Linked DNA regions of Homo sapiens. Each later gene encodes a partner of the first gene's protein in a complex. Each region holds a gene or a part of one and is shown on either strand. Other genes may lie near its edges.

Evidence for each region.
Region 2: CYFIP1 (region 1) and ABI1 share a complex: the UniProt entries of both Homo sapiens proteins name them as parts of the WAVE2 complex.

Annotation. Positions count from the first base shown.
Region 1 is NC_000015.10:22,941,470-22,950,291, forward strand, and holds part of CYFIP1 (cytoplasmic FMR1-interacting protein 1), read right to left. Parts: intron 6,561-8,822; exon of another isoform or gene 6,442-6,560; intron 5,850-6,441; exon of another isoform or gene 5,823-5,849; coding exon of another isoform or gene 5,817-5,822; coding exon 5,700-5,816; intron 5,624-5,699; coding exon 5,534-5,623; intron 3,471-5,533; coding exon 3,393-3,470; intron 3,191-3,392; coding exon 3,089-3,190; intron 1,886-3,088; coding exon 1,704-1,885; intron 1-1,703. UniProt on the Homo sapiens protein: Component of the CYFIP1-EIF4E-FMR1 complex which binds to the mRNA cap and mediates translational repression. In the CYFIP1-EIF4E-FMR1 complex this subunit is an adapter between EIF4E and FMR1.
Region 2 is NC_000010.11:26,766,048-26,773,958, reverse strand, and holds part of ABI1 (abl interactor 1), read left to right. Parts: intron 1-2,869; coding exon 2,870-2,884; intron 2,885-3,613; coding exon 3,614-3,714; intron 3,715-4,966; coding exon 4,967-5,107; intron 5,108-7,911. UniProt on the Homo sapiens protein: May act in negative regulation of cell growth and transformation by interacting with nonreceptor tyrosine kinases ABL1 and/or ABL2. May play a role in regulation of EGF-induced Erk pathway activation. Involved in cytoskeletal reorganization and EGFR signaling.

The DNA.
Region 1 (8,822 bases):
GAGTTATCTTGGCATTGACACTTAAAAGAGGTTATACTAGTAGCCACGAGCAGGTGCCAAAAGAGCTAGATGCGTGTGTGTGTGGTGGGGGTCTTGGGAGGGGTGGGGGTGATGGTCTGGGAAGGTTAACCAACAGGGGTCCCAGATAGAGGTCAGAGGAAGAGGCAGCAGTAAGAGCTACGGAACTGCCCCAGGCCCACTCTTTGGTGCTCAGGGGAACCTGGAGGTGGTGAAGACGCTAGAGGGGAAACCCTCCTTCCCCCAGCTTTGCACACAGCAGCCCCATCTGTAAACTGTTTTACAGACTAGGCTTTAGAATAAAGGTGCTAGTGCTAAAAGGAAAAAAAAAACAACAACACACACACACAACTTTTAAATACTTTTAAATATTGAAAACCACCTCCCCCATTTCCCTGACAAAGCCAAAACGGCGGCTGAGAAGGCTGCTTAAAATCACACAGCTACTGGATTGGGCGGCTGGGACCAGGAGCCCACTCCGACCAGTGAGTCTCGATGCTAGATTCCCACAGATGCTGTTATCAAACAGGGACCCTTCAGACTTCTGCCCCAAGAGGGGCTCACAGGTCAACTCCAGAGACCTTTCTCTAGTTCTGAAGATCTAGACTTCTGTGCAGAGCTGATGATTTTAGGTGATAAATGGAACACTGCATTATTTCACATGAATGAGGCTTAAAATTCTGCCTGACCTAGCTTGACTCCTACTGCTGCCTCATTTTGTCCCAAGTGGGTTTTTAAAATAAAGACATAGCAACAGTTGTATGATTTAAAATGCAACATAACTAGAGCATATTCAGATGCAAAGTAAGGTCTCTTCGAATTTAATTTTAGAGCTAAGATGCCTTACTTAGCAGAGGAAATTGAAATTAGCATCTCATTCCAGCAAAACATGTCTTCAAAAGCACTGAGCACAGATGAAGCAGAGCAAGAGCATCAGGAGACAGCGTGCCAAGTGTCACCAAACGCCGGTCGGCAGCGTGCCAAGTGTCACCGAACGCCGGTCGGCAGCGCGCCGAGTGTCACCAAATGCCCATCGGCCACCCACTGCCCCACACTGCTCCAGAAGCACACACTGGGCCATGCCTGCCTCTTCCGCTCGTCTTGCCAGCCTCTCCAGAGGCTAGCTTCTCCAGAAGCTCTCTACATCCAGAAAGAAAACCACCAGGGAGAGGATCTGGAAGCGCAGTGTGACCACGAGACACCCTGTGACTGTGCACGGGCCACGTCTGCACATTGCTGGGATGGTGCTCATGTGCTGGGGACCCCCGCTGGCGAGTGACCGGCACCGAGGACTGCAGCCCCAACGCCCAAGGTAGGCTGCAGAGGCCACCTGCCCCCTTGCCAAGATGCTCCCTGAGCCAGATGCCTGTGCTCTGTGAGCTAGGCCTACATCTTGTGCATGTCTGTCTTCCCAGGGGCTCGAAGGTCCTCTGTGACATCTGAGGACAGCCAGGGCACGAAGAGCCTGCTCTAGCTGTGCAAAGCCACGATATGCACTTATCTGCTGGCTCCCCTCACCTTATCCCTCGAAGCAGGTGCTCACACAGCCCTGACACTGAGACGTAGCTGCTGCCTACCAGAAGTGACGACTTCAGCAAACAAAGACGCACACCTGCTGTGCACAAGGCAGGCCACTGAGCTGGGTGCTCTCGGGAGGGCCCGCAGTGCGCGAGGTGGGTGCTCACCTCTTGTACGCTGAGTGGTCGTTCTTCACACTGCACTTCATGTTCTTCAGCTCGTCCAGCACAGCGAACATGTTGATGAATTTGCCCAGTGTGATCAGGTAGGCTTCTGACACGAAGTCCTTCCTCCTCTCGGCATGGCACAGGCGCCTCACTTCCCCGCAGAAACGCTCAATGGCATTTCTCTGTGCAGAGGAAGCAGGAGGGCAGAAAGCTGCAGGTCAGTGAGGAGCCAAGCCCATGTCCCTCCTTCAAGCACCTGCAGTCACTGCTCCTCGATGAGAAACGATCTGCCCAGTGAGGCTCCAGGCCGAAGTGTTTACAATGTGGGCAACCAGACCCCTTCCTGAAAGCAGCTCCCACTGCCTGCTCTGCACCATCATTACTTGACTTGCACTTTACCAACTACATCACTAAAGTAACAAAATCTTGCTGATTATTCCAGCAAAATTACTGAGCAAAATGCTCCAATAAAACGCCTGTAAAATTCAGATGTTCTAACTTTCAGAAGTGAAAACTGGGAGAGATTTTTTTCCTCTTGGTAACTTTCAAGGTAAAACAAAAATTCATCTCCCAGTTAGTTCCATCTCCTCCCTTTGCTGAAGGACATCATCATAAAAAATCTGGATGTTTCCAAAATACTTCTTTAAAAAGCAGCAAGCCCCTTCCATGTGGCTACTTCTTGCCTAACCAAGGCCAGGGCGAGGACCACCAGGAATGGACAGTCAGGGTGAGGCTAACAGCAAGAAAATACCTGAAAGAGCAGACGAAAACAAAAGTACAAATTGGCCAGGCGTGGTGGCTCACACCTGTAATCTCAGCATTTTGGGAGGCCAAGATGGGCAGATCATCTGAGGTCAGGAGTTCAAAACCAGCTTGGCCAACATGGTGAAACCCTGTCTCCACTAAAAATACAAAAATTAGCTGGGCGTGGTGGCGGGCACCTGTAATCCCAGCTACTCAGGAAGCTGAGGCAGGAGAATCGCTTGAACCTGGGAGGCAGAGGTTGCAGTGAGCCGAGATCATGCCATTGCACTCTAGCCAGGGCGACAAAGCAAGACTCTGTCTCAAAAAAAAAAAAAAAAAAAAAAAGTACAAACTGGCAAAAAGTCAAAGCATTGTACTTGAAACTGACAGAAAGCAGGCTCCATGAAGGAAACATAAAATCACTCTCAGAGAAGAGAAGTGAACCACAAAAGGAGCGTTGATTCCGAAAGGGCATGAGGAACTTTAGACTGTCAAAGGCTTGGTCCCTTTTGTCTCAGAAACTGGTTGCTTTAATTTGCAGGCACTCTGTTCAGGGTGTTCACAGTGACAGTGATGGGTAGGAAGGGGTCAGCAACCCACCCCTCGGTGTTACACCCCCCCCAGATTATTTGCCATTTTACCTGGAAGTACATGAAATTCATCAGTTTTGTGACCTCAGGCTCCAGAACCTCCACGGTTTTCTCGTAGATTTCCACTCTGTTAGGCTGCTCGTTACATTTCACCTGGGAATAAAGGAACAAGGATGACATAAGAGGCTTTGATCCAGCCAGAAGCAGCCGCTGGGCTTCTAGAGCTAGTGATCCCGCCCTGCTGTGGGGTGAGAACTGGGAGGAGAGTGGGCCAGGCATGGCAGGGGCAGGGGTGTGGTGTGGCAGGGGCCTGGCAGGGTGTGGCTGGAGGGGAAGAGCCAGGCGAGCGTGGCACCTGTGGGATGGCCCGGGAGCAGCTCCTCCAGGTGTACAGCATGACAGCATATTCTTGGCCCTCCTCCAGCATCTCGTTCTGCAATGGAACACAGGGCAAATCAAAGGCAGGCGGGGGAACTAGCATGAAAAGCAGATGCCAGTTGCTAAAATCCAGACAAAGCGCCACAAACTATCCTAAGCACTGTGGCCTGTGTGCCAAGAGACGGCTGCCAGAAGCTAGTGACACTGAGGTGCGGCGCTGGGGGCCACAATGACCACCCAAAACACCCCATGGCTTCTGCAGGCGAGAGGGGTGTCAGTGACACGCAGGCATCTCTGAGGGGTGCCACAGGCGTTACACCTTGGCTCCACCCAGCCCTCAACAACCTGCTGGCCATGAGACCTGCAGTTAGGAACACAGAGGAAGGGCTCAGGGCAGACGCCCTGCCCGGTGTGAGCACACACAGGATCCCCATGGCCTCCTCACTGGCTCACAGGGCCTCCCGGTCCCAGAGAGGACTAGAGGCAGGGCTGCCAGCCCCGGGTGTGCAGGAGGAAAAGTTAGGAGCACGCCCACAGCACTTAAAATCTAGGTAGAGAGTCCATGGGAAGAGGACTGTCATCACTGCTGTAAAACTGCTTTTGCTTTCCACTCTTTAACATCGTTTCCTTTGGAAAAAATCAAATAGATGCTCTTAAATCTAGCCTTTATTTAGTGAGACGTTCATCACAGTATTTTTTTTTTTTTTTGAGACGAGTCTTGCTCTGTCCCCCAGGCTGGAGTGCAGTGGCACGATCTCAGCTCACTGCAACCTCTGCCTCCCGGGTTCAAGCAATTCTCTTGCCTCAGCCTCCTGAGTAGCTGGGATTACAGGTGTGCGCACCACCATGCCTGGTTAATTTTTGTATTTTTTTTTTTTTGTAGAGACAGGGTTTCACCATGTTGGCCAGGCTGGTCTCGAACTCCTGACCCTAGGTGATCCGCCCACTTTGGCCTCCCAAAATGCTGGGATTACAGGCGTGGGCCACTGCGCCCAGCCTACAGCATTTTTTTATTACACGACATAAAAGAGGAAGTCAATGCGCAAAAATAGTTGAATTGTGGACATTTACAAAATGGTTTACGTAGCCATTAAGGATTGCTTTCTCTAGCACATTTTCATGGCATGAAAATATTCTTGTCCAGGTGCAGTGGCTCAGGCTGTAATCCCAGTACTTTGGGAGGCTGGGCAGGCGGATTCCTTGAGTCCAGGAATTCAAGACCAACCTGGGCAACATGGTGAGACCTCGCCTCTACAAAAAACACAAAAAAGTAGATGGGCATGGTGGTGTGTGCCTGTAGTCCCAGCTACTCAGGAGGCAGAGGTGGGAGGATTGCTTGAACCCGGGAGGTTGAGGCTGCAGTGAGCCCTAATCACACCACTGCACTCTAGCCTGGGCAACCTGAGTGAGACCATCTCAAAAAAAAAAAAGAAAGAAAGAAAACCTGTTGATGAGACCATTAAAATGCAGAACTAGCTAGGTGTGGTGGCTCATGCCTGTAATCCCAGCACTTTGGGAGGCTAAGGTGGGCAGATCACTTGAGGTCAGGAATTCGAGACCAGCCCGACCAACATGGTGAAACCCTGTCTCTACTAAAAATGCACAAATTAGCTGGGCGTAGTGGTGGGCGCCAGTAGTCCCAGCTACTCGGGAGGCTGAGGCACAAGAACTGCTTGAACCTGGGAGGCGGAGGTTGCAGTGAACCAAGATCGCGCCACTGTACTCCAGCCTGGGTGGCAGAGCAAGACTCTGTCTCAAAAAAAAAGCAGAACTATAATAACAATGCAATTCATTTATAAATCTAAATCTCATATGGGCACATACCTGGTGTGTGTGGGTGCAGATCTGGAGAGGGAATGAGCATTAACAGGGCAGGTGCACCCTTGAAACGCTGACAAAGGTTTTCTCTGGGCCAGAGACATTGAATTTTCAGAACCAGCATGTATTGTTTTTACACTAAGAAAAGCAAAGACTGTCTTAAAAATATAAGGCATTTCATTCATTTTCTTCTCTTTTTCCTCACTGCATAGTCTATTGGGATAATACCAAAAAGTATACATCTGTCCTTCAAACACGCCCTTCTCTGCAGAGAGAAACAAAGACACACCGCAACATTACCATGCTAGAGTGGACGGTGGCTTGTTCAATGTATCTTGCGATGCCAGTAACAAATGCATTTCTGTCTTCAAAGTTAGTGTTGAAATTTGGCTGAAGGAAAGGAAGAGAAAAACATCATGTGGGGTCGGAGCACAGGCTGTACGCCCTGCAGCTGCTGGGCACCCACCTGGTAGAGCAGCGAGGATGGCGGGGGCTCGATGCAGGGCTGCTGGTCGGGCAGGGGCAGCTCCTCCAGGAGGTCCACGTTGGACAGCGCGTCCTCCAGAGTCACCTGGGCCGCCATCCTGGGCTGGAACAACACATAAGGACCCCTGTTCTGTGAGGAGAAGGAGGGGACACCCAACAAGCTTCGAGGTTGGGTACCCAGGCCTCTAACCCCTTCCCGCTCTCCCGAGGGCACCGGACATGGCTGACAGGGGCATGATCAGTCCTTGGGAGTTGCGTGTCTCTCTCAGGGCACGTGGGCCAGCAGGCTGGGAGGCCCTGTGCAGCTTATCCTTCCACACTCGCTGAGAACAGGCTCTCCTGGCCTCCAGGAGGGTCACAGTATGGGGCACATGGTTCCTGCCATCCTTCCCACCATGGGGGCCGCCGTCCTGAGTTGCTGGTGCTGAGGACTCTCTCGAGGGTCTGACGACCCCCTCAAAGTGCTGGAGGGGCAGCACCTCTCCAATGCCACATCTGCCCAGCAGAGCCTCCCTAAATGCAGCCACCTCCCAGGTGGTGCCTCCAAACACACTAGGGCCTGACATGGAAAAGACGAGCGCCCTGCCGCCCAACACCAGCTGTCTAGCTGCACAGACAGGCTGAGATTGCAAGGAGTATGGGGCTGCCGCAGGGGACAGAAAGTGCCACACCGCAGCTGGAGCAGAGGTGCAGAAATGAAGGCAGACATCGTCTAAACACACCTTCAGAGCCAGCTCCAGGGAGAGGGGGCAATCTGCCTTCTGCTGAATCTGCTCCAGTCTCAAGGGTACTCAGGAGGAGCTCTGCCCTGGGATGGGACCAGGGGCAGCTGAGCCACATTCTATGAAGGAAAGAGCAGCAGGTGGCCTGGAGGAGACACTGAACAGAAGGAGCCCCAAATCCCTCCTCCAGCACTGGCGCAGGCATGGAGGTGCACAGTGGAACGGGTAGTCAGTCCCACTGCACTGGCTGAGGGTGGAGAAGGGAAGCTCTCCAGGGACCCAGGAAGCCCCAGTGGCAGTGTGGAGAGGAAGCAGCTCAGAAGAGCCAGCCGACAAAATTGCTCATGAGCTTCAAGCCCATCCTCAAGCTGCAGGGGTGTGGATCTGATCCTCTTCACACCCCAAACCCTGAGACCACAGCCAGACAGCCACCAGCGGCACACAGGGGGCAGGTCCAAGTGGCAGTGCAGGAGGCTGTGAAGCCAGAATTGACATGGAGCTGCCACCCACTGAAGGCAAGTCAGAACCACAGCCCAAGTCTCCTCAGGGTGTTTGCTTTCTAAAATAAAAATATCAACATCCTCCTAGGATTTTAACAAGACCCAGATCTCATATCATAACATCCAACCATCCACTTACAGCCCAGATTACTCAGCACACAAAGAACGAGGAACGTATGGGCTCCTACAGGAAAAGAGAATCAACAGATGCCAAAATAACACAGGTGCTGCAATTATCCACCCGACTTTAAAGCAACTACTGTGCTATGAAATGCTCTAACGATTGTAACACTCCCAAACTGAATGAAAAAATGGAAATCAGCAAAAGGCAAACAAAACAAGATATAAAGAAGAACCAAATGGAAATTTCAAAACTAAAAGACACACTACTGAAATGTAAAAAAAAAAAAAAACCTCAGGAAAGATTCAGTGAACTTGAAGATAGAGCAATGTTAAGTTTTCTAATCTGAATACCAGAGAGAAAAAAAGATTGAAAAAATTTTGGGGATCTTCAGGACAAGAGAGAAGGTCTAACATCTGTGCCATGAGAGTGCAAAAGGAAAAGGGGAAACCAAGCAGTGATGAAAAACAGCTGAAAAAAATGACAGAAAACACCCTAAATTTGGAGAAAGTCTTTTGTCTACAGATTCAAGAAGCTCTATGGATCCCAAACAAGACAAACAAGAAATCCACACCCAGACACATCACGGTCAAACTGCTGAACACTAAAGATAAAGGAAAACAGATCTTGAAAACAGCAGGAGAAATGACGCTCAGCAGAGCACAGAGCAACAGTGGGAGGGCCGCGGATTCCCCCCGGGGACCAGGCAGGCCGGAGGGCGGGCACAATGTGCCTAAGCCTAAAGCGGGGACCAGGCGGGCCGGAAGGCGGGCACAATGCGCCTAAGCCTAAAGCGGGGAGGTGCCAACTTGGGATCCTCCCTCAAGATGGGAACGTGTCTTCCAGGAAGGAAGGTGAAGCCAGGACGTGGGCAGAGGAGGAAAACAAAGAGCATGCTGGCCAGCGGTACAGGCTGACAGGAAGGGAGGTGGAAGGAGGCATGGGCTACGAACCACAAAGCAGAGGCAGTAGGCAGGCTAAGCGGCGAGGGCGCAGGACACACAACGACCCCACAGCTCTTCCAAAGTGCTTGGCGGTTAAAAGCAAAAATCAAAGTACTGTCTAATGGGCCTTTCAGTGTACATAAATGTAAATTACACAAATACATAACAAGTAAATTATAAAATATTTCTAGGTATATAATTGTATAAATCATATAAACAAGACAACTGTAATCTAAAAGGGGGAGGGGAAACCTGGATGGGGTAAGATTTCTATGTCCCACTAGAAGTAGTAAAAAGCAGACTTTTCAGATCCTCAGCAGAATATGAAATGTTAATAAGCATGGACTTCGAAATCCTTAGAGCAACCACCGAAGAAAGCTGTACAGCCAGGCGCTGCAGTCCCAGCTACTTGGGAGGCTGAGAAGGGAGGATCACTTGAGTCCAGGAGTTCAAGGCCTGTCTGGGCAACACAGTGAAATCCTGCCTCTTTTAAAAAAAGAAAAATTAACATACTTTTTAAAAAAGCTATCCAAAGCAAAATAGATAACATATAATTTAGAATAAATTAAAACAGAATACTATGTTTTTAAAAACCTAAAAGGAAATAGAGCAATGATAAAGATAGTGATCTAACAGAAGTCAGATAATAAAATGGTAGACCTGAATCGAAACACATTGATAATTACACTATCATAATAATCTAAAAACACCAATTAGAAGAGGTTGTCAGAACAGATAAATAAAATCCTAACCCAACCATATGCCATCTACAAGAAACTTACTTCAAATATACTGATACAGGTAGGTAAGTCGAAA
Region 2 (7,911 bases), on another chromosome or scaffold:
TGATCTAGGAGTTGTTAGATTTTATTATTGGTCTTAAAAGATAAGCTTAGATGTGTTACTTTTTTTGGAGTTTTAGTTTACAGTGATTCATGAATCGGGCAGCTTCAGACCACAGGAGACATGAAGCAGGTAGAAGTTCAAGAAAGCAAGACAAGCAAAATATTTGATTGGTTAGAAGTTAATTGTGGTTTCTGATTAGTAAAGTTCCTAGTTAGAGGTTAGTTGGAGGTTTCTGATTAAGTTTCTTTTAATTGTGTTTTGGTTTGCCTAAGTAGGAACCCAGAATGCTGGAGCCGTCTCAGCCTAATGGTCTCAGCCTAATGGCTTTCTGATTAATTTTTTTAAAACAGTGTAGAAACTAAAGCTTTATAATGTTTACATAGGAAGATTTTTTTTTAATTTTTATTTTATAAAGCAGAGGAGTGAGTTAAGAATCATTTCAAAGAAAGAATTGGCCTTGGCTGGGTGCAGTGGCTCATGCCTGTAATCTTGGCACTTTGGTAGGCTCAGGTGGGAGGATCACTTGAGGCCAGGAGTTCGAGACCAGCCTGGCCAACATGGTGAAACCCCGTCTCCTAAAAATACAAAATTTAGCCAAGCATGGTGGCACACAGTTTTAATCCCAGCTACTTGGGAGGCTGAGGCAGGAGACTCGCTTGAACCCGGGAGGCAGAGGTTGCAGTGAGCCAAGATTGAGCCACTGCACTCCATCCTGGGCAACAGAGCCAGCAAAAAAAAAAAAAGAATTAGCATTAGACATTTAGTGCCTATGACATACAAAACTATGATGTACTTAGAAGATAGGGAGGAATCAAAGGGAATTTCAAACAGATTCCAGGCAAATGGTAAAATTACTCATCCATAAAGGTAAATGTTAAGGAAACAAAGTGAGATTTTTTTAAAAAGAGACAGGGTCTCACTGAAGTGCAATAGCTCAATCACAGCTCACAACTTTCTAGGCTCAAGTGATCCTCCCTCCTCAGCCATCCAAGTAGCTGGGACTACAGGTGTGCGCCACTATGCCTGGCTAATTTTTTATTTTTTTTTTTCAAGAGAAGGGGTTTCGCCTTGTTGCCCAGGCTGGTCTCAAACTCTTGGGCTCAAGCAGTCCACCTGCCTTGGCCTCCCAAAGTGTTGGGAGTTACAGGTGTGAGCCACCGTGCCTAGCCTGAAATGAGATCTTAAGGAAATAAAAAAGTTTCATTTTGGATATATTTTGGGGATATTTAAATAAAAAATTTTATAGATTTCTAACAAAAATATTAGTATTTTGAGGTGTAAGATGTAGAGGTTATTTCCTACTAACACTTGCCAACATTGACACATCTGCATGTCTAATAACACTTAATAGAGGAGGCCGAACTTCATAAGAGGTTAAAGCTTATACCATTGCATAGTAGCACAGAGTTCAAGTAGAATTTTCATTCCCAATCTAATTCTTCTTTTATTCTTTCCATTTGGGACCAGCTTATACTTGAATGCTAATTTTTTTGTTTCTTATCCACTTGAAATGACAAATGAAGGAAGATATGTGGACATATTTAGAATATTTTCTTGGTTATTTTAGGATAGTATTTAGTATTATGTATATACATTATAAGATATACATTGCTATGTAAGTATATACTATACATGTATAGTATATATCATAATACAGATACTGAAGTATACATTAGTGTATTTTATCTTCAAGGATCCTAATAATGTTATACTCAAAATTTATTCTCTAGATGTGAAATGTCATGGTTAGGTAGGGTACCAGATGTTGTTTCCAGATAGAAGTAAGCAGTATCATTTTAAACAAATATTGAAGTGTACCAAATTTCTCGCACAGTTTCTATAAATGAGAATGTATCCAAAAGACACCAAATCTCTCCTTTGGATGATTTCCTTTGATACTGCCTTGTGGCCACCTGAAAAATGGTAGTTACTTGTTGAGAATGTCAGATGTTATTTAAAAAAAAAAAAAGCTTGAAGCCCCCAAATCTGTAAAAAATTAGACTCTAAAACCTGAAGATATTTTTTTTTAGTGGCATTGTACAAGTAGTGATGCTTTAGGACTACACATTGTTTCATGTTGTGTAGGCTAGTCAGCTTTAATAGAAGTAGCCTTTAGGATCAAAACAACTTTTCTTCAACTTTGAATTTTGACTTAACTGGCTCAGATGAAAACTTAGAACTAAAGCTACTTAGAACTTCCTATTAGTGTTGGCCTGCACAGGATTGGGGTTCAGAAGCTAGGAATGAGAGAGTTTTCCAGACCCTGTTTGTTTATTTCTTAGTTAGAATCTGGCTAAGTTATCACTGTGCATGATGAATTTGTTTTTAAACATCGAGATACTAGGTCCTTTTTTCATTTTTGGAAGCAATCTGTGGTTTTGAATTTTAATGTTTGCAGTTTATCACTTTTTAAACTATACTACCATTGAAGTAATGAATACTCATACTTGGACATTCATTATCCAGTAAAGTGTTAGGTCTCATGCACCGATATGTTAAAATAGCTTCACATCTAATGTGTTATGGTGTTTGTATTTAAATGAGCGTATTTTTAAAATCATCTGTTACTCGGTTGGATTAGTTCCATAGGACAAAATACTGACTTAAAAAATCATTGAGCCTGCATGAGATTGGAATAATTAAGTGGTGGTTTCCTTATGAATATAATTCTTTTGAAAAATACATGAAACACATGAGTATTTCCCCAGTACGTATGGATCTCTTTTTCTTTACAAAGTAGTTGAAACATGGCTGGAAAAAAGCTTATTAACATGAATTGAGTAACTGTAAATGTAAACCTGTCCTATCGGATATAACTTACCTAGCATTAATGTCTACTTTTTCCCCCCCTTTTTTTGCCAACGTAAAGTGGCTAAAAGCCAAGGTAAGAGCCATTACTTATCATTTGATCCACAGTATTTCCTCTGTATTGATAGAGGCTGCAGAGCCACTAAAATTTGAAAACTCTTCTTATGTCTGTCTGCTTTTCCCTGTAGGATTTATGTAGATTATTTAATACTCAAGTTCAGTTCAAATAAGCAACATTTAGCTTGGCTGTGTTAATATATCAATGATATATTGACATCTGTGTTTATATAGGAACATTAATTTTGCTAACATTTATTGCTTTGCTCATTTTTCGATAGTTGCCTTGCTTTCATTGACTTACAATTAGGAGGTTTCCCAGACATCATATGTGACTTTGTTACTGAATTGTTAGGATGAAGATGATTTTTCAGATGCGTATTTGAGCAAATTGACAAGTAAGATCTATAGTTTGTGTTCATGCACACATTTCAAAAATTTTAGGAAACCCAGTGTTTGAATGCAGATAAGTTTGATCTCAGTGAACATGTTTAACAATAAAATAAGATATTAAATCCAGTCATCTCACCTGTATTTGGCTACAATGTGATATAAATGGCATAAAATAATAGGAAGACCAAGTGCAAGTGGTTCCTTGACTTTTTAAACTGTAGTACCAAAGTCTTTATTCAAACTGTCTGGGAATCCTTAATTCACATTCTGATATTTAAAAAAAATAATACATGGTGTTAAAACACCAGGAGAACAATTTGATATAAAAATAAAAGCATTTCTTTCTACATTTTAGCATGGAAATAACCAGCCTGCAAGAACTGGCACACTGTCGAGAACAAATCCTCCTACTCAGAAACCGCCAAGTCCTCCCATGTCAGGCCGGGGAACACTGGGGTAAGAATTCAACTACATTTTGCAAAAGAATTCATATGCTAAAGGAAAAGATGTTTCTGTGACTTAAGTAAGTGTATGGGATCCATGCCACACTACCCTCTCTATGTGACGCTACCTTTTACAAATTCATTTTAATTCCTATTTTCCTGAACAGAATCCCAAATGAATCTGCCAGCTTTGTAATATTCTCTATAATCTGTACTAGGAAAGTTTTTATGTATGTATAAATGGCATGATTTATTTTTTTGTCATCTAATTTTTAAAAAATATAAATCTGACTTGTTTGTTTTAAATGGAATGATTAGAGTATTCCAAATGGTGCCTTTGCATGTGTTTACAGTATCTATATTGTAGAACTTTGACTAGTGGTCTACTTTTGTGTAGTATGGCTTAGTCCACAGCTCTTCTGTTTCGCCTATTGGTGTCTGAGACTTAGGGACTCTTTACTTTAGGAAAGTATGCACTTTACTTGTAACTATGCTTCTGCTGGTAATCTTAGGCCTCTTCACACTAGAGTAGCTCCATGGGAAGGCCAGTTGGGCAAGTAGAAAAGATAACAGTGGCTTCTTCCTTCCTAGTTCTCAGTGTACTAAATATAGCGAATACTTGTCAAAGCATTATATTTCTTTAAGGTTGTTTTTCTTAATACTGGAAATATTATATTGGATTTCTTATTTTTTGGCAGAGGGGTTGTTCAACAATCAGTCTTCTTTTAAGAAGGTCTTAGTTTTCATTTTTATTCATTAAACCCTCTGCCCCTGAAAAAAAAAATGAAGTTATTAAACAGAATAGTCGAAATCATTTATTGAGAAAGTAATGATTAGAATGTATATCTCCATTTATTGCCATATTGAGATGGGAATAAATTGCAGCTTCCTATGTAAATAAATTTAGCTTCCTGTTTAAAGAACAGTGGCTTATGGGTGACTGTACTGAGAAAAATGTACATTTTAAAGTTTGCTATTATTGAGCATTTAAAAAATTATAACCATAATTTTTAGAAATAAGGTTAGGACTTTAAATTACCCTTTCCTATGTTTTTCCTAGGAAAAGGTAACAAATTTTAGTTTTCATGTTAAAGTAACAAAATTCATATATCCCAGTGAAGAATATTTTTTAAAATTACAAACTTTGTCATATATATTTTTAAATCCTGGTATACATGGTCACAAAGGGAGACTCACATATTTTTGGGAAAAATACAATTTTATCTTTTTTATTCATTATTCCTTTCTCCACTATGCTCCTTTAGACGGAATACTCCTTATAAAACCCTGGAACCTGTTAAACCCCCAACAGTTCCTAATGACTATATGACCAGTCCTGCTAGGCTTGGAAGTCAGCATAGTCCAGGCAGGACAGCATCTTTAAATCAGAGACCAAGGACACACAGGTAAGCCTTTAGGTTGAGTATCTCAACATCTCTAAAGTGGGTGTAACTGACTGGCGACAAACTCCTATGGAGGTGCTGAGTAAAGGTGAGGTGCCACTCTAATGCTAATATAAAATGTAAAAGTTGGGGGAATAATATTATATATGTTCCTGTAAGTTTGTGTTATAACTTCTGTTTTGTTTTGTTTTTTTAACTTTTTAAAACATCTATTTGTACTATTAATGGATTGTTTGTATTTCCTCCTTTTGATAGAGGTACAGACTCTATCAGACTCTACGGGTTAAGACTAAAGAATTTTTTTCTTTTTTTTTTTGTGACGGAGTTTTGCTCTCGTTGCCCAGGCTGGAGTGTAGTGGTGCGATCTCGGCTCACTGCAACCTCTGCCTCCCAGGTTCAAGCGATTTTCCTGCCTCAGCCTCCCAAGTAGCTGGGATTACAGGCCTGAGCCACCACGCCTGGCTAATTTTGAGTTGAGACGGGGTTTCTGCATGTTGGTCAGGCTGGTTTCCAACTCCCAACCTCAGGTGATCCTCCTGCCTCGGCCTCCCAAAGTGCTGGGATTACAGGTGTGAGCCACTGTGCCCAGCCCTAAGAATGTTTTAAAATGCTCTTTTAAAAAAATTCAAGGCAAACCACTCAAATACTTTTGGAGAAAAGATTAAATATCATAGGAATTATACAACGTGATTTAAACTTTCAGAGATTGAAGGAAAGAAGATTAAGCTTAAATCTGAGGGAGATTTTTTTAAGAGAATCAGTATACTAGAATATGTTGTTATAATAATAATATTATTATTATCTTTTTGGAGATGGAGTCTAGCTCTGTCACCCAGGCTGGAGTGCAGTGACGCGATCTCGGCTCACTGCAACTTCTACCACCCAGGCTTAAGCAATTCTCCTGCCTCAGCTTCCAGAGTAGCTGGGATTACAGGTGCATGCCACCACGCCTGGCTAATTTTTGTATTTTAGTAGAGATGAGGTTTCACCATGTTGCCCAGGCTGGTCTCTAACTCCTGACCTCAGGTGATCCACCCACCTCGGCCTCCCAAAGTGTTGGGATTACAGGCATGATCCACCGCTCCTGGCCTTGTATTTATTATTTTTAAATGTCCTAAAAGTCAATTACCCGGTGGGTTTTTAAAAATTTAGTTACAGAGCATAACAAGCATTCAGAAAAGTATCCACTTCAGTAAGTATACAGCTTGATGAATGGACACACACTCATATAACCATCACCCAGATCAGAAAATGGAACATTACCAGCAACCCAGAAGCCCCTCATGCTCCTTCCTGGTTATCGCCTCGACCTTCTTCCCCCAAAATATAGCCACTTCAATTTTTGAGTGCTTTATAAAACCAGATAAATTTATTATATAACCAAATTTGTTTTATTCTTCAGTTTTCTCTCTCACTTAATAACGTGGGCAGGGAACCTCTCTTTTGCCTTCACTCTTAGGTTGGTAAATGAGAGATAACTTATCAAAATGATTTATGGGAATTCCACTAAATAGGGTATATCAAGATGCGAGATGCTAGGTAAGCGGTATTTATTACTATTGGTGCTGTTAGTAAACAAATTGTTAAGTTGATATCTGCAGTTACTGTATCAGGTCAAGTTCTTTGAGGAACAAAATTGTTCTCTTTGTTGTTATTGAACTCTTGGATCAAAGTATAGTTTTTCTCTATAGTGGAAGCATAGTTTAATCATATTCAACAAGCAGTTATTAAGTGTTGTTTCATTAGATACTAGGCATTTGTCAATAGGGCATAGTTCTTTTTTCAAGAGCTCATTCTGTTAGAACAGGGATCAGCAAACTTTTTCTATAAAGGGCCAGATTGTCAATATTTTAGGATTCGTGGGCCATATATATGGTTTCTGATGCAATTACTCAGATCTGTCATTGTAGCACAAAAGCAGCCATTGACAATACGTAAATGAATGTGGCTGTGTTCCAGTAAAACTTTATTTATAGCACTGACATTCTAATTTCATATAATTTTAATGTGTTACAAAATATTATTCCTCTTGATTTTTTTAACTATTAAAAAATATAAAAAACATTCTTAACTCACAGGTAGTAAAAATCAGGCAATGGACCAGTTTTAGCCCACAGGCCATAATTTGCCAACCCCTTGTTGGAAAAAAGACAGTAATTGAAGAGGAGCATAATAAGAGCATAAATATTCATATGTCTATGATGCAGTGGTAGCACAAAGCTAAGTATTGATCACCTGGCTTGAGGGAGTTAGGGAGGTCTTCACATCTAAGCTATGTCTGTTTTATAAATGACTTTTTTCTTTTTCTTCCATTAACATATGATAATCTAATTATAGAATGATCATATTGCAGAAGAAAATAAAAATCTTATCCAGGCATTGCAAATCTTTGCCCTTTGAATTTCTGGGCTTATTGAGCAAATTATGTAGATTTTAAAACATAATATGGAGCCTAAGGCTGCATGTGCACAAATATATGTTTTTACACATGTACACACATTACTATAAACAACTGGATGGCACAAGATCTTATACCTTACTAGAAACAACTAGAGGGAGCCAGGTCCTAGAGCTAACAGGACAGTACATCCACAGGAAGTAGAATAGCGAGGAGTTGGTTAGAGTTTATCAGTAGCAACTATTCCAGAATGTCCACACTGAAACTTCACTATTGTCTTTCTTTGTCGTTATGCTTATTTTCCAGAAAATTTCCCTATGTTATCACCTTTCTTTGAGATGAGAGGAAGTTTCATATTAATTTTAGACTAGAACGGAGTACCCTTTTAATTTACTTCCACATCATTTGT